Linked DNA regions of Homo sapiens. Each later gene encodes a partner of the first gene's protein in a complex. Each region holds a gene or a part of one and is shown in the gene's direction. Other genes may lie near its edges.

What was found.
Region 2: BAG3 (region 1) and HSPB8 share a complex: the UniProt entries of both Homo sapiens proteins name them as parts of the chaperone-assisted selective autophagy (CASA) complex.

What each region holds. Positions count from the first base shown.
Region 1 is NC_000010.11:119,646,031-119,655,139, forward strand, and holds the start of BAG3 (BAG family molecular chaperone regulator 3), read left to right. Parts: upstream 1-5,349; 5' UTR 5,350-5,645; coding exon 5,646-5,825; intron 5,826-9,109. UniProt on the Homo sapiens protein: Co-chaperone and adapter protein that connects different classes of molecular chaperones including heat shock proteins 70 (HSP70s), e.g. HSPA1A/HSP70 or HSPA8/HSC70, and small heat shock proteins (sHSPs), e.g. HSPB8.
Region 2 is NC_000012.12:119,181,547-119,189,833, forward strand, and holds part of HSPB8 (heat shock protein beta-8), read left to right. Parts: exon of another isoform or gene 1-656; intron 657-1,327; exon of another isoform or gene 1,328-1,737; intron 1,738-2,380; exon of another isoform or gene 2,381-2,549; intron 2,550-5,478; coding exon 5,479-5,542; intron 5,543-8,287. UniProt on the Homo sapiens protein: Involved in the chaperone-assisted selective autophagy (CASA), a crucial process for protein quality control, particularly in mechanical strained cells and tissues such as muscle. Displays temperature-dependent chaperone activity.

The sequences.
Region 1 (9,109 bases):
TTCGAAGAGGAAACTTTTTACTTTCTGCAGAGCACCTATTGGGTTGGTGCAAAAGTAATCACAGTTTTTGCCATAATAGAAGGGACACATGACTCAGACCAGGAGGATGAAGAAGAGAGATGCCACAGGTAATACCTGATGATGAAGGGGGGTCAGCCAGGCAAAGAGAGCGGGAGGCCATTGGGTGTTGGAGAGAAGGGCTCTCCAGGTGGAGGAAGCAGGGTGGGCAGAGGCAAGGGCAGGCTGTGTCAGTGCCTGCATGATATGGTGCAGCAAGGCCAGCCAGAGTGCACACCAGGCTGAGGGGAGGAAGGTCTTGTGTACACCAAGCCAAGGAGTGTGGAGTCAACAGAGAGGCATTAAAGAATTCTAGGCAGAGAAGGGGCAAGGCCTGTTTTGTGCTTGAAAGATTGCTCTGGCTACCATGTGGGCAACGAATTGGAGATGAACAAGATTAGAGGCTGGTTTACGTGACCAACTGCTTACGCACACACACAGACACACACACATACACACATACACACACACACACACAAAGATTAGAGTCTGGGAGATCCATCAGGAGGCCGTGCCAAGATCCAGATGACAGGCAAAGGTAACCTGGACGGGTTGGTGGCACTAAAGACAGACAGGAGTTCACAATCAAGGAATATCTAGGAAGTGGAATCCACAGATTTAAGGATAATTAAATGGGCCAGGCACGGTGGCTCACATCTGTAATCTCAGCATTTTGGGAGGCCAAGGCAGGAGGATCACCTGAGGTCAAGAGTTCAAGACCAGCCTGGCCAACATGGTGAAACCCTGTCTCTACTAAAAATACAAAAATTAGCTGGGCATGGTGGCGGGTGCCTATAATCCCAGCTACTCGGTAGGCTGAGGCAGGAGAATCGCCTGAGCCAGGGAGGCGGAAGTTGCAGTGAGCCGAGATCACGCCACTGCACTCCAGCCTGGGTGACAGAGCAAGTCTCAAAAAAAAAGGATAATTAAATGGTGAGGGGCAAAAGAAATTTAGGGTTATGCTTAAGCTTCTGATCTGGGCAGATGAACTCCAGGAGGCCTAAAGAGGGAGTGTCTGAGGGCCTGGAGAAAAGAAAAAGCCACCGAGGACAGACATGATGCTCAGTATTCAACGTGGCTCAAAGCAGCTTCTTCCAGCCAGCTCTCCAAGACTTGTGTCTCTGTTTTAGACAAACCCTGCGGAAGTCCCTAGCGGAGGATAACTCTTCTGCGGTGAGCAGGTCTATGCACACCTACCCTCAAAGGCTGAGGAAACTGAGAAGCTGAAGAAAGAGGTGGACAAATCCAGTTTCTCAGAGAGAAACACTTAATAGGGACTTACAAACACAAGCCATGTCCTGGATGGCTGCAAGACAAGATGGCGGGTCCCTGCACTGTTACCCTGAAGTCCCAGGGCTTGTATACCACAGGGAATTCGCCACAGGCAGGATTTATAGTAAGTATGTGTTTACAGTAACACCAACGTTATTTTGACCGAAGGGTAAGTATGTGAAAATAGAAATCTTAGAGGCATTCCTGGAACGGGTTCATCAGAAACGAACATGGCAGATGAGCATCCAGGATGGAGCTGCTTTAGCCTCCAGAGCAACTGTCAGAAGCAGCTATGTTAATCCCAGAGTAACCTGCTTCCTCCCTGCTGCTTCTTTCAGGGGAAAAATGGCCAACACCACTTTCAGTATTTGTTTGTTTATTGAGACAGAGTCTTCCTCTGTTGCGCAGGCTGAAGTGCAGTGGCGTGATCTCAGCTCACTGCAAACTCCGCTCCCCGGGTTCCAGCGATTCTCCTGCCTCAGCCTCCCAAGTACCTGGGATTACAGGCACCCACCATCATGCCCGACTAATTTTTGTATTTTTAGTAGAGACGGGGTTTCACTATGTTGGCCAGGCTGGTCTCAAACTCCTGACCTCAAGTGATCCCCCCCACCTCTGCCTCCCAAAGTGCTGGGATTACAGGCATGAACCACCACACCCAGCCTCTGTGTTTATTTAAACTGTAGTTACTTAAACTGTAGTGGAAAGCAAATTGAGCAAGGAAGAAGATAGAAATAAAATTTCACTCTGGATTCAATCTTCGATAAACATCAACATTTATTGAATATGGACTCTGGGTTCAGGGCTGCAGACATAAGGAAGCATAAGGCAGACACTGACTAGTGAATTTGGGGGTCTAGTTCCTTCAACAGTAATATTTCCTATGGGAAACTAGTGCACTGACATTCGGGTTTATACACCTGTCTCTAACATGTTTGGTGACCTGCATCAGTCCCTGGGGCCTGATCATCACTGGAGTTACTGGACTCCAAAGCGGATAAGCATACTTTTACAAGTGAGAATCATTCCATTGGAAATGATAGGCAGGCCTCTCTGGCATTTTCTCCAGAAGGAGTAAGCTGAGGGCAGGAAGGGGCAGAGGTATTGACTGGGGTTCGAGGATATTCTCTGATTCCGAATTGAAAACTAGGCCCAATATTAGTTCAAAGCGTTTCTGGGGAAGGGAATGAGTCAGTATGTCTAAAGATCTAAAATGTCACCTCCCAAACATTCTCTCTTTCTGGAACACAGTCTCTCTTTCCCAGGGGAATTGGGGTGCTCATTGACGTTTGTTAAATAAAAGTTATAAGAGGTCACTGTTTTGGACTAAGCTCCTGCATTTGGCCTTAACAAACCCGACGAAAAATCAGAAAGGAGTCACTCATGCTAAAGTTCCACATCACCAAACCAAAACCAAGTTGTTATCTGACTTTCTGAGAAATCAGGAGAGGTGATAGTCTAATTTCCCAAACAGGCTACTTTCGAATGAGGGGTGAGGGTTGGGGAGTGACAGGAGGTGGCTGGGGGCACCAACTCCGTGCAGTCGAAAATCCCTGCAAAGCTGGGCGAGGTGGCTCATGCTTGTAATCCCAGCACTTTGGGAGACGGAGACGAGTGGATCACTTGAGACCAGGAGTTTGAGACCAGCCTGGCCAACATGGCAAAACCCTGTCTCTACTAAAAATACAAAAATTAGCCAGGCATGGTGGTGCACACCTGTAATCCCAGCTACTCAAGAGGCTGAGGCAGGACAATCGCTTGAACCCAGGAGGCAGAGGTTACAGTGAGCTGAGATTGCCCCACTGCACTCCAGTCTGGGAGAGAGAGCAAGAACCTGTCTCAAAAAAATAAATAAATAAAATAAATAAAATAAGAAAAGAAAGGAAAAAAGAAAATCCCTGCATACTTTTTTGTTTGTTTGTTTTTGAACTGGAGTCTGGCTCTGTCGCCCAGGCTGGAGTGCAGTGGCATGATCTTGGCTCACTGCAACCTCCGCCTCCTGGGTTCAAGCAGTTCTGCCTCGGCCTCCCGAGTAGCTGGATTACAGGCATGTGCCACACGTCCAGCTAATTTTTGTATTTTTAGTAGAGTTGGGGTTTCACCATGTTGGCCAGGCTGGTCTCAAATTTCTGATCTCAAGTGATCCGCCGCTTGGCCTCCCAAAGTGCTGGGATTACAGGCGTGAGCCACCATGCCCCGCCCCTGCATACTTTGAATCTCCCAAAACTACCAATAGCCTACTCTTGACGGAAAGCCTTGCCAATAACATGAACAGTCAATTAACACATATGTTGTATATGTATTATATGTATTCGTGCAATAAAGTAAGCTAGAGAAAAGAACATGTTAAGAAAATCATAAGGAAGAGATTTTACATTTACATAAGGAAGAGTAGTACACTTACTACTCATTTAGTGGACGTGATCATCATAAACGTCATCATCCTCATTATCTTCACGTGGAGGCTGAGGAGGGGAAGGAAGAGGAAGGGTTGATTCTCCTGTCAAGGGGTGGCAGAGACAGAAGAGGTGGAGGAGGTGGAAGGGGAGACTGGAGAGGCAAGCACATCGGTGTAACTTTTATTGAAAAAAAATCCATGTACAAGTGGACCTGCTCAATTCAAACCCATGTTAAGGGTCAACTGTACAGTAATCTGAAGTATGTAACCTGATGTTACATTTCTCTCAATCATTTCTCTCTTTCTTTCTCTCTCTTTCTTTTAAAGAGATAGGGTCTTGCTCTGTCGCTTAGGTTGGCATGAAGAGCAAAATCATAGCTCATGGCAGCTTCAAACTCCTGGGCTCAAATGAGCCTCCCACCTCAGCCTCCTGAGTAGCTGGGACTACAGGCATAAGCCACTGCACCTGGCTTATTTTTTGTTTATGCAGAGATGGGGGTCTTACTGTGTTGTCCAGGCTGGTCTCAAACTCCTGGACTCAAGAGGTCCTCCAGTCTTGACTTTCCAAAGTGCTGGCATTATAGGCATGAGCCATGGTGGCAAGCCCTCATCAGTTATTTTTCTATGATTCTGTCTCTCTGTCCCCTCCTTACAAGGAAAGTAATTTTGAAACAACCAATCCAGTCTTGGTTCTTTGTTTCTGCTTTCTTCAGCCCTTCTCTGTCTATAAAACCAACCTCTTCTGCTCAGCTCATGGGAGCACTTATTCTAATTTAATGGAGATGTTGCCCAATTTCTAGAATCACAAATAAGATCTTTAACAATAAAAGTTAAAAAATGAAAATCAACAACAACAACAACAAAAAAGATCTTTAAATGTGTTGTAATTTTCTCCTTTGACAGGTTACAAGTGCAATTGAATAAACCAAACAAAAAATGTCATGGTTATTCGGTCTTTACTTCCCAAATCAGGGTCAAGATATAAGATAGCAAGAACCAATCTCTACCATAAAAAAGATCCAGACCCAAGAAAATGTGATTTATCTTTAAAGCTGCAACGAAACTTTCTTTTTAGTCTAGGAGACTAAAAGCCATCAGTTGATACAATCTCTTTTTTTCTTGAAGTTTCCAAAGGAAGGCAGGTGAGTTTGCACTGACTTCCATTTTCTCCCTGGCTTCCTTCCGGTGTCAGATGAGAGTCCCCGCGCTCCTCCCGGACAGCCCTCAGGGTCCTCGGCTATCATATATGGGGGAGGGGGTGGAGGTGGGCGAGATGGTTTTGTTTGTACAGGAAGGACGGGCGGCAGGCACGGGGAGCACGGGCTCCGGCCCCGGGAACACTCACTCGGCGCAAAGGAGAGGGAGAGAGCGACTATGAAAGCCGAAACCCGCCCGGGGCGCACGGAGGACGGCCCCAGTCCAGCTCGTCCGGCTTCCCACCCGCAGGCGGACCCCGAAGCCGCGCCCGCGCCCGCCCGCGGCGACTCCGGCCCGGGCACGCGCACGAGTCGGAAGGGGGAGGGGCGGGAGGAGGTGGGGGAGGGGCGAGCGGGCCGAGGCCCCGCCCCCGCTCCTCTGCCCCGCCCGCCGCGATTATAGCCGATGACTCAGGGCGGAGCTCCGCATCCAACCCCGGGCCGCGGCCAACTTCTCTGGACTGGACCAGAAGTTTCTAGCCGGCCAGTTGCTACCTCCCTTTATCTCCTCCTTCCCCTCTGGCAGCGAGGAGGCTATTTCCAGACACTTCCACCCCTCTCTGGCCACGTCACCCCCGCCTTTAATTCATAAAGGTGCCCGGCGCCGGCTTCCCGGACACGTCGGCGGCGGAGAGGGGCCCACGGCGGCGGCCCGGCCAGAGACTCGGCGCCCGGAGCCAGCGCCCCGCACCCGCGCCCCAGCGGGCAGACCCCAACCCAGCATGAGCGCCGCCACCCACTCGCCCATGATGCAGGTGGCGTCCGGCAACGGTGACCGCGACCCTTTGCCCCCCGGATGGGAGATCAAGATCGACCCGCAGACCGGCTGGCCCTTCTTCGTGGACCACAACAGCCGCACCACTACGTGGAACGACCCGCGCGTGCCCTCTGAGGGCCCCAAGGTGAGCCGGGCCCGCGGCCCGCCCTGGTCGGTGGCGCCACCTCGACGGCAGGCGGCGGGGAGTGGGCTGGGCCGGGGGGACGCGAGGCGGCGGGGCCCGGGGGTCGGCGAAGGCCCCTCGCGGGCGGACACCGGCTCCGCGCCCCGCCACACACTCCCGCTGCGCCCGGACGAGTCCCCGCTCCGGACCCGCCCTTGACAGGCGTCGGGGCGAAAGGAGGCCCCGGGATTCGGTGGCCCGGGAAGCGACCCCGCAGTGGCTCCGGTGCCGTCCACGGCTCGACTCCAGGGCGGAAGGCCGGGTGTCCAGCGCTGGCCTCGCGCTCTAGGGCTGGGAGAGGGGCGGCCGGCCTGGTCAGCTCCGGAGGCCCCGGCCCACCGTGGCCCCTGCTGCCCGCTCGGCCTCCGGGCCCGGGACCCGCGGCGCACCCTGCTGACCGCGGACTCGAGGGGGACACTCGCAAGCTTGGATGGTGGTTTTGGGGGGAATTTTACCGCTCAAGTTCTCCAACTTGGTTGAGGGGTATCTTGGCTACTGTCCCATGTTAGGCACCCAATGACTCTGGAGGCTGGTGTCAAAACATTCATATATATATGTGTGTGTGTGTATTTTAAATTAAAATTGTATTATTGTTTGAAAGTGCTTTCAATATGAACGTATCCTAGTATGATTTGTAAAATAAAAAACAGGGTGTGCTTCTCCCCAGCAGTTTCTAGAGATCTAGACTAGAGATCTGAGACTGTCTTACAGTTGGCCATTGCCTTACCACATTGCCTCACACTGGAGAGAAAGAGAATGATACGTGTATATTTATAATGGCATTCGCTTCCTGCCTTGTTATGGTATTAAAATACTTAGGATTTGTTACCAGTACACAAATAACTGACTAATGATACTCTTGTGAATACAGCAGAAGTATGTCTCATTTACATACATGCAAGGATATATACTTCTTAATCCCCAAGAGCATGAAATTTGAAAATGTAAATTTGGAATGAGTGTGTTAATTTTCAAAAATCAGAGTTAGTTATACTATTCTTTCAATTTTTTATAAATTTGAGCTTTCAGGATAAAAAGTTTTTAAAATAAATATGTTATACTTAAAGCTGAATTGTTAACGCCGTCTGGGCAAGATAAAAGCAGCAAAGAGCTGGTAAATTATTTTGAAGATTTAAAAACTCACCAAATTAAAACTGCTGTGTAACCCATTGTTTTAGAAGAAAGACCTGTATTATTTCCCTTCATCTTTATGCACTTTTTGTTTTAACAATATTGATAAAACTCCGGTGCCCAGCAGTGAGACCGTGTACAGGCAGCAGTTTACATTTACGAGAGATTAGTTGTATATTTATTCTTGAAAATTAGTACAAGAGGCTGTAATTAGCTGGGATGGGCACAGTTACATATACCTTTTTGTGTGTCTGTTCCACCCATTTTTGGGTGAAACTGACACTCATTTCAAACCACCTTTCTTAGGAGTCTGCGTGGATGTACATGATCTTTAGTGTGGTTTACAACTATTATTTTGAAGCCTTCTTCCTGTAGACATAGGGATAGTGGTATCTGTTGGCAGCCTTTGTTGTGAGTGAAGATCAAGTTTGAACATAAACATTCCCAGCACTTTGTTCTCAGCATGAAACTTACCCAGCAAGTTGAGATCTTCCTGTACCCACCTGGTGCATGGGTTAGGCTGTGATTTCATAAACCTTATTAAAAGAAAAAAAGCAGGTTTAGTTACCATTATTCTTGTCAGCAAATACAAAGAACTACTAAATCAGAAGTCTGATGCTGGGAAGATTTATTTGAAAATTTCACGGTCAAAATTTTAAAGTTGAAATGTCCTTGAAGATCTCTTATGTTAGGCTTCTTTATTTTCTGAAACCCAGAGAGTTCAGGTGTGACTTTGAAGGTCATCCAGCTAGTACCAACAACAGGGAGAGAACTAGTGTCAGGAAAGTCCTAATAAGAGGCAGTGTGTCTCTTCAGAAGTTGGAAGTGAGTGTTTTGGGAAACTGAGGCATGCAGGCTAGAATACTTGATTATTTTTGTGCCCTCCTGGCCACCAAGTTATTGGGTCACTGACCTCTGTGCTGAGGTTGCTTGGATTTTGATGATGGGACTGATGAACTCAAGAAAAGAGTTCCCTTTACCAAGTGAATGACTTGAGACTTGTCAGCATGGCACCAAAACTTAAGGAGAAAACTAACATTCAGCCCATGAGCTGTTTGTGCTTCATTGCTTTCAATCCTGTGCTTTGACACACACAATATCAGGTTGCACTTGTGTGAGTTACACCTTACTGGAGACTAAATGTAGTGGAAAATCCTTGAATATCATTTTGTATTTGAAATTGGCTTCTCAATGCATAATGAGAAAAAGGCCCTTGCAGAAAACAAAGGGCGATTTTGGAGGAGCTGAGCTGAGGCCCGTCTGAGCATCATCATCTTCAAGAGGAAATGCTGTCAATCAGTAAAAAGCTGTTCATTGAGCATGAGGAGCTCAAGAGACGACCTCTCTTTTGGGGGAGGACTCAGCTTCAGGATGTTTAAAATTTAATCACGTTAGTAAGAAAATGGAAAGAAAAGACTAGACCTTTGTATTTTATTTCGTCTTCTACTGCCGTCTTGCAGTTGATCTTCCGCCTTCTCCTGAAGTAGTTAGGACAACTCCCTGTTTTCACAGAGGGGCAGAGCGAAAGCAAGTATCTTCTGTCATTGCTGAAGCAGGACGGCTCCCGGCAAAGATGCTGGGCTTCATCCAGCCCCATTCTAAGCAGCTGGGCCTCCCCACCTGCAGTCTTCCTGGATTTTGATTTTCTGCACACTTGGGCTTCCCACTAATTTGGCAAGTTCATACCAGTCCAGGCCCTTTCCTGGCAGAGGATGGCATTCAGTGCTGGTGCAGCCACTCCTCCAGGCTCCTCCCTGAATAAACAGAGGCCGGATGTTCTGGAGTGCTGTTCCCGCCAGGCCTCCTTGGGATGAGAGGGAGACCTTCCTCCCTCATGGAGCAGGGCCGCTCTAGCTCCATGGATCTTGGGGGTTACCAGTCTGGCACTCTCCAGGGAGTCCTGTTAAGAACACAGATTGTGGCTGTGTCTCATCGCCTCCCTGCCCCAACCCCATGTTCAAATCTGAATTGCTCAGTGTAGGGCCCAGAAAACTATTAAGTCCAGAAAGCTTTTTTGGTGGTTCTGATTCTGCTGCACTGGCAGTGGGAGCCACGGATGGCCAGTGATCCCATTTTGGGGAGGAGGAGCTGCGGCTTAGTGCCTCCTGAACATC
Region 2 (8,287 bases), on another chromosome or scaffold:
GCTTAGTGATTTGGGGGCCCCAAGATTTATTTTCCTTTCACATTCTATGACCTGGAACACAAGGAATTAGTATTATTATTGTCGTCGTTATTGTTATAGTGTCAGGCATCCAGGAAGGCCCCAATAAATAATGAATAATAGATGCTCTTTGAAACCTGGGTTCAGATCCCAGCACTGCTGTTCACTAGCATGGCGGATGTGGACGAGAAAGTCTTCATCCCTCTGAGCCTCATTTCTCCTATTTGCAGAATGGAGACCATAATAATATCTGTCCTGTAAGGGTGTAGGAAAGATTAAACATATGCAGACTATCTATGATAATATATGCGGAGTGTCTATAAAATGGAGCTAATAATAGTGCTTGCCTGGCACTCTGTAAACAGACCGATTATCACCATTCCTTCTGTCCTTGTTTTAATTAGGGTCTTAGATGCTTCTAGCCCAAGTCCAAGGGTCGACTCCACCCTGTGGTCCCTCTAGGAGACCCTCTGTCCAGCCTGGAGGGTTTTTCACCATCCTCTTTTGTAGGTGCTTCATAACAGGTGGGGTCTGGCAGCTCCATGTTGAGATCTCAGCTAAGTATCTTACTAATCCAGAGGCTTTGGGTGAGTCATGCAGTCTCAATTTCCACGTCTGTAAAATGGGGTCATTGGGAGCTTAAATAAGACAAAGACAAAGCTTTTCAGACATGCAATTAGTGACATCGGCTAGACAAAATCCAAATTCCCTGAGAGTCCATACAAGGGCTTTCATAAAAGGGGTTTAAAAATAAAATTGATATCAGGAGCTCTATTTAAGAAGCAACTTTCGGGCCGGGTGCGGTGGCTCATGCCTGTAATCCCAGCATTTTGGGAGGCCAAGGCGGGAGGATCGCTTAAGGTCAGGAGTCTGAGACCAGTCTGGTCAACATGGCGAAACCCCGTTCTACTAAAAATACAAAAATTAGCCGGGTGTGGTGGTGAGCGCCTGTAATCCCAGCTACTCAGGAGTCTGAGGCAGGAGAATCGCTTGAACCTGGGAGGTGGAGGTTGCAGTGAGCTGAGACCGTGCCACTGCATTCCAGCCTGGGCAACAAGAAAGAAATTCTGTCTCAAAAAAAATAAAAAATAAAAATAAATAAAAAGCAATTTTCAAGGGAAGTTGGAAGTCAGATCCAGTTTCCCACCCTATACCACAAAATGACAAATCCGTTCCTCCACAAGCACGTGCTAAAGGCCTACATGTGGTGGCTCAGTGGTTCCTCACAAGGACCTCCTAGGAAGTGTGGGTAGGTTTGTTAACCCCATTATACAGATAAGGAAGCCGAGGCCCAGAGAAAGTAACTCACCTGAGATTACCCACTTCTCCCTGGCAGTGTCTGACATTCAATGTCAGGCCTCTCTGGCTGGTTCTGAGTCAGGATGGCTGGATCTACTTCTGGCGGTGTGGCCCTGAGCAAATCCCACAGCCTCTGGAGCCTCAGTTTTACTGTTGGTCTTATGAAGAGGTAGACAAGATCAGAATTTACCAATGTACTTCAAGCTGTTACTAGGCATCTAGAAACAGGAGCAGGAGAGTTCAAGGTCTTGTATGGTGCCAGTAAAAACAAAATTATAAACAGGTCTTCTCACTGCAGGACTTATCAGAGCCTTTAAGTCACTAATGTAGTTTATGAATCTCTAAGAGGCAGCCCTATCTTATCTGACCACGTATGAGTGTCTCATTCAAGGAAGTGTTTGGAAAATGCTGGACTAGACAATTTCCAGCAAGCCTCAGATTCCCCTACCCCCATCCTGCAACCACCAGCCAAGAAATGTTCCCTTCATGGGCCACTGGGCCAGACCCTGGCTAAGATAGAGACTGGAAAGCCCCAAGGCCTTATTTCCACCCCTTCTCCTTAGTCCCAGGGACTCTGCCTTCCCTGGAAACAGCACTTTCTTTCTTTAGCTGGGCCAATAGTGTTCCACCTACATTTCTCTGAGGCATGTTGAAAAAAGCATGTCTGCAAGGGGTTTCTGACTTCTCCTAGCCTCTGGATGTATTTCTAAAAATCATAATAATTACTTTTTTCAGTTTACAAAAATAAAATGTCTTCATGATAAAATATGTAGTTAGGAAAGCAAAATAAGAAATTAAAAATCACTCATAATCCTTAAGCTGCCCCAATCTAAGTAGGCAAATGATAAGCAAATTGAGTTTCAAGATGATCCTCCTAGCAACACTCTCTTTAAATGAGGTTAACCCCACCTCCAGGCCCCTCTTTTGGAAATCTTGGAGCTTTCCCTGCTCAGAGATCCTCCCTTCCCTCACCCCAATACCCTATTTTCAGAGCAGACAGAGGCACCTAGTTTCTGAGGAGCAGTCTTTTCCCCAAACATCAAAATAAACCACAAGTGTTTACCTTCACATGGTACTTTTACAACTTCCAAAGCCATTCTGTGACTCGCTTTCATTTGCTTCCTACGGTAACCCGGTAAGATAGGTGTCGTCATTCCCATTTCAGAGAAGAATAAACTGAGGCTCAGAGAAACTTAGAGATGTGCCAGGAAATGTCAGAGTAGAGACTTAAGTCCAACACCCAATATTCCAGAACCTGTCTGCCTGCTTTTGAATCTTTGCACCAGTCACTTCCAAGCTGTGTGACCTTGGATACAGCACTTAACCTCTCTGAACTTCGGGTTTCCTATCTACAAAATGACAATAATGAAAATGCCTGCTTATATTATTATTTTACTATTATTATTTAAGGTTGTTGCAAAAATTAAAGGAGTTGATACAGATAAGGTGCTTAGAACAGTGGCTGACACCAAGGAAGCGCTATATTACTTGCTATTATTATTTATATTATCAGTTTTTATTCCCAGGACACCAGCATGCAGGAGGATTCTAGGATGCAAAAGGGCTGAGTCAGAGGCACTGGCCTGTCCCCAGGGGAAGCAGGTCTCCCGGCGCCCTGGCTGTGGGGAGGGTACCAAAGAACAGACAGTGCTCTTCTGGGCACAGGCCTGTGCTAGAGCCAGGCAGTTGGTGGTCATGGAGTTGGCAGCACAAGGTAGACTCTTTAAGCGGCCACACATTCACAGGATAGCATGTTCTGGTTAGCCAGACACTCCAGTTTAAAATGAATTTCTTTTGCTGAGAGCAATTTAGGAACATAGATTAAGCCTTAGAAATTCTGGAAGTTGCATTAGTCCTCAGTTAATCCTAAAGAAGTCATAGGGCGGCCTGGTGTGAGGTTCTAGCTACAAGAATGTTCAGGGCCACGAAGTTCTCGCCAACGTTGGAAACTCTTCAGCACCCCAAAGTAGGGGATTGGTTAAATTAGCTCTTATGTATTCCTCAATAGAACACTGCAGCCATTAAAAATTATGTTGTCAAAGAATATTTGGTAATATGGAAAAGTAATTATAATGTGTTAGCAAGAGAGAAAAATAAGTTCCAAACATAATGCAGAGAACTATCCCATTTGATAGAATACTGATATACATGGATACTATGTAACATTTACACATTTCTGAGAAACATAGAAAAGTCGGAACATATAAAAGATATTATTAATAGCTTCCGTGGGGTGACAGGATTATAAGTAGTTTTGATGGCTTTTTTTTTTAATTTTTTCTTTTGTTATTGTTGTTTTTTTTAAATTTAGAGACCAGATCTCACTCTGTTGCCCAGGCTGGAGTGCAGTGGTGCATTATAGCTTACTGTAACCTCAAACTCCTGGGCTCAAGCAATCTTCCCACCTCAGCCTCCCAAATAGCTAGGACTACAGGCACACACCATCACACCTGGATAATAATAATAATAGTAATTATTATTATTATTTTGAGACAGAGTCTCACCCTTTTGCTGGGCTGGAGCGCAGTGGCGCGATCTCGCCTCACTGCAACCTCTGCCTCCCGGGTTCAAGCAATTCTCCTGCCTCAGCCTCCCAAGTAGCTGGGACTATAGGCACGTGCCACCATGTCCAGCTAATTTTTGTATTTTTAGTAGAGACGGAGTTTCACCGTGTTGGCCAGGAAGGTCTCGATCTCTTGACCTCGTGATCCACCTGCCTCGGCCTCCCAAAGTGCTGGGATTACAGGCATAAGTCACCACGCCCTGCCTATTATTATTATTATTATTATTTTTAGAAACAGTGCCTCTCTATGTTGTCCAGGCTGGTCTCAAACTCCTGGCCTCGAGTCATCCTCCTGTCTCAGTCTCCCAAAGTGCAGACATTATAAGAGTGAGCCACTATGCCCGGCCTATTTTCTGCATTTTCTAACATACACATGCACTATCTTAAAGCACAAAAAAAGCTATTAACAAAGAAATAATTAAAAGTAATTAGCTATAAGTTGTCAGTTTAAAAAAATCTGGACTGCTATATTCAACAAAGTTGTTTACATTCTAGATTTCAAGGCCCCTCAGAAGCACCTCCCTGTGTAAATGAGGGTTCTTGCCTCCAGAAGGTGGCCCCACAAATGAGGAGTGAAAAGTAACAGCCGAATGGCCCCACTGTTGTACTAATCTTGTTTGTTTAAAGAGAAACTACAGACACTCTCTCTATTAAAGAAAAAAAGAATGAGGAGAGACCGAGAGAATTAGAATGTGCTATATACATTACAAGATCAAAACCAGTTTAGGCCCAAGTCTTCTTGTAATTTCATCTTTTTCCTCCCTGAGGGGGTTGGGAAGCCCTCTCTTACCACAGGTTAAGAGGCGAGAGGTCTGGTGGAATTTCACATCCACAGTGCCCTTAGGAAAAGCTGGGTGTTTTTGGCAGATTGAAGCATTCTTTTTCCAGGCTGTGCTTTCACTACTGGGTACAGATAATGTGGCTTAAAGAGCTAATCGGGAGCTGGAACAGACAGAAATTCAAGAGCAGAGAGGCATCAGGACCTAGAACTTGGCCTAGACTCAGAGAGAGCTGATTCAAAGCTCAGAGCCACCAGGGACCTGCTGGGCGACCCTGGATCCATCACCAAGCCTCAGTTTCCATGTTGGAAACAAAGGGAGAACGACGTCTGGGCTCAGAGTTAGGAAAGCACTCTGTTAGCTATAAAGCAAGCTACATGGCAGAGTCGCCCTCAGCATGTGACCCCGCTTCAAGCCTGCCATCCAGTCTGGGATGTCAGACCCAGGGTTCTACTGGCAGGTTAGAGAAGAGGAGTCAGGTGGGAGACTTGGAAGATTTGGTACAACACATGGAAGATTTGGTACAACACAGAAGTTTCTGCGATTTCCTCAGACTAACCCTTAATTAACTACAAACCACGGTCTACGCCTCCTTTCCATCAATTATCTTATTTCACCTTCATAGCCAGCCTTGGAAGTGGACTTAGGTGGGTCTGTATGGCAGACAAGGTCCTTGAGGCTTAGATAACTAGAGTCTCTAGGGTAGGCCTAAGTCACACAGCAAGGCAGGTCCAGGGCCAGGATTTGAACCCAAGCCTCAGTCCTGAAGGATGCCCAAGGAACATAGATGCTGACACGCCACACTTTTCTTCCTTCCAGGCAAACATGAAGAGAAACAGCAAGAAGGTGGCATTGTTTCTAAGAACTTCACAAAGAAAATCCAGTAAGTAACCTGGAGTCATGGAGCTCAGGGTGGGAGTGGAGGAGGGGGCACACCTGGGACCCATGATCTGGGGTCTCTCCCTCTTGGGCATCTCTCTTTTAAGACACCTCCTTGGGGCAGGGAATTGAACCCTCACACCTAACGAGGAGAAAATATCCCAGCAGACCTGTAATAGGGTCCCAGAAGGGGGAGCACATAGATTGCATCATCTCATCTGCTCGGTGCCCTGTGAGGTGGGTATTAAAAACCCCATTTTATTTATTTATTATTTATTTATTTATCTTGAGACCGAGTCTCACTCTGTCACCCAGTCTGGAGTGCAGCGGTGTGATCCCAGCTCACTGCAACCTCCACCTCCTGGGTTCAAGCGGTCCGTGTGCCTCAGCCTCCTGAGTAGTTGGGATTACAGGCATGTGCCACCATGTCCGGCTAATTTTTTGTATTTGTTTAGTAGAGATGGGGTTTCGCCATGTTGCCCACACTGGTCTTGAACTCCTGGGCTCAAGCGATCCACCCACCTCAGCCTCTCAAAGTGCTGGGATTAGAGGCTTGAGCCACTGCACCCGGGGAACAACTCCCTTTTATAGACTAAGCATCTGAGGGTAAGCAAGACAATGACTTGTCCACAATCACACAGCCCCTACCCATGGGGCATAGCTGAGGGAGGACCCCTGTCACCATCCAGAAAGACCATCCCCTGATTCCCCAAATGCCCCAGCAGAATATCTTCCAGGCTGCTTGCTCAGCCTCTGCCCTGCCAGGAAAATGAGCACCTTCTCTAGGGCATCCACAAAAATGAAGTTGGAAAGTGTCCTGAGAACACTGCATACTACCCAGAGAGGTTTGGAGGCTGAGACACTGGGACACAGGAAGAGCTATTTTGCTGAGGGGAGTAGAAGGGATTCATGTTTAACAGGGAAAGGGAGCCTGGGGGAACCGTGAGAGCAGCCAAGGACAATCAGGCTGAGGCCATGAACCAAAGCCACCACGAGCCCCTAGCTGGCAGTACCTATAGGGAGCAGAGTTGCACAGTGTGGTCACGATGGCTGCACTTAAACAACTGCCAGGTGCTTCATACATACCTTCTCCCTAATCAGCAATCAGCGTCACTCCACTATGTGCGTTTCTGGCCCCTAAACTCTCTCTCTCTCTCTCTCTCTTTTTTTTTTTTTTTTTGAGATGGAGTCTCACTCTGTTGCCCAGGCTGGAGTGCAGTGGCACGATGTCAGCTCACTGCAACCTCTGCCTCCTGGGTTCAAGCAATTCTCCGGCCTCAATCTCCCAAGTAGCTGGGATTACAGGTGCATGCCACCATGCCTGGCTAATTTTTGTATTTTTAGTAGAGACGGGGTTTCACCATGTTTGGCCAGCCTGGTCTTGATCTCCTGACTTCAAGTGATCTGCCCGCCTCTGCCTCCCAAAGTGCTGGGATTACAGGTGTGAGCCACTGCGCCTGGCCCCTAAACTCTTTTCCAAGCCATCGTTGCATTTAGCCTTTGCAGCAAAAGTGTGCATCGGAGAGGAGACATGACCCTCCTTGCAATACAGGGAAACTAAGTCTCCCACAGGTGAAAGGACATACCCAAGGTCTTTACAGCTAGAATTTAGAAGGGCCCAGAATAGATCCCTGACCTCTGAGTTCCATGCTCAGTCCTTGGGCAAGGAATGCTGTTTCCTCATCTGTGAAAGGGATGCTGATTCCAGCCTTGCAGAGTTCCTGGCTGAAAGTGACATAAGGTCATGGCCCAGCGTAGGTCCTCATAAGTGGGAGTTCATTATTACTATTGTTATTGTTGACTCTTAACTTTTCCATCAGCCTTTGCAAAGAAATTCTGTGTGTGGAGAGATCACACTAGCTGAATTCTGAGGCTTCTTCCAGCTTGGGATTCTACATTCCTGTCTCTTCCCCCACATGTCCGTCCCTGGCCCTCCCACAGCCTCTGCAGTTCTTGGAAGCCTGTGGACACTTCCTGATAAGGCAAACGCCAAACCATTTGTTCTTCGTGTTTGCTGGCTTGCCTGGCATCTCCGTGCCCCACACCTCTCCCTGGTTTAGCAAGCAGATTAAACATTGCTGAGGGAGAGGAAGGAAGGCAGGGGGTGGGGGGAAGCTGATGTCAAGGCTCAAATGAGGTCTCAGGGTGGAGTCACAAGCAGGGCATAGCTGTAAAAGGGACTGTGTAAGAAAGAAGTGAATTAATCATCTTAAAAGGGGTGTGTGTGTGTGTGTGTGTGTGTGTGTGTGTGTGTGTGTATTTCACATGCTCCAAGGCCTTAGGGGAGATAGCTTGCTGGAAGTAACCTGATGAGAAATGCCTGAAATTGCTCCAGGCTGGTGCTCAGCTGCTGAGCTGGGCTAGTTGTTAAAATATTCAGTGGTCCCCAACCTTTTTGGCACCAGGGACCAGTTTCGTAGAAGGCAATTTTTCCATGGACTGGGGAATGAAACTGTTCCACCTCAGATCATCGGGCATTAGATTCTCATAAGAAGCATGCAACCTAGATCCCTCGCATGCACAGTTCACAACAGGGTTCAAGCTCCTATGAGAATCTAATGCCACTGCTGATCTGACAGGAGGCGGAGCTCAGGCAGTAATGCTGGCTGAACTGCTGCTCACCTCCTGATGTGAAGCCTGGTTCCTAACAGGCCACAGATGGGTGCCGGTCCATGATCCGGGGGATGGGGACCCCTGAATATTGGCTAGCTATTGCCCTGAGCCCTCCCTAGCCAACCCCAGTCACTCT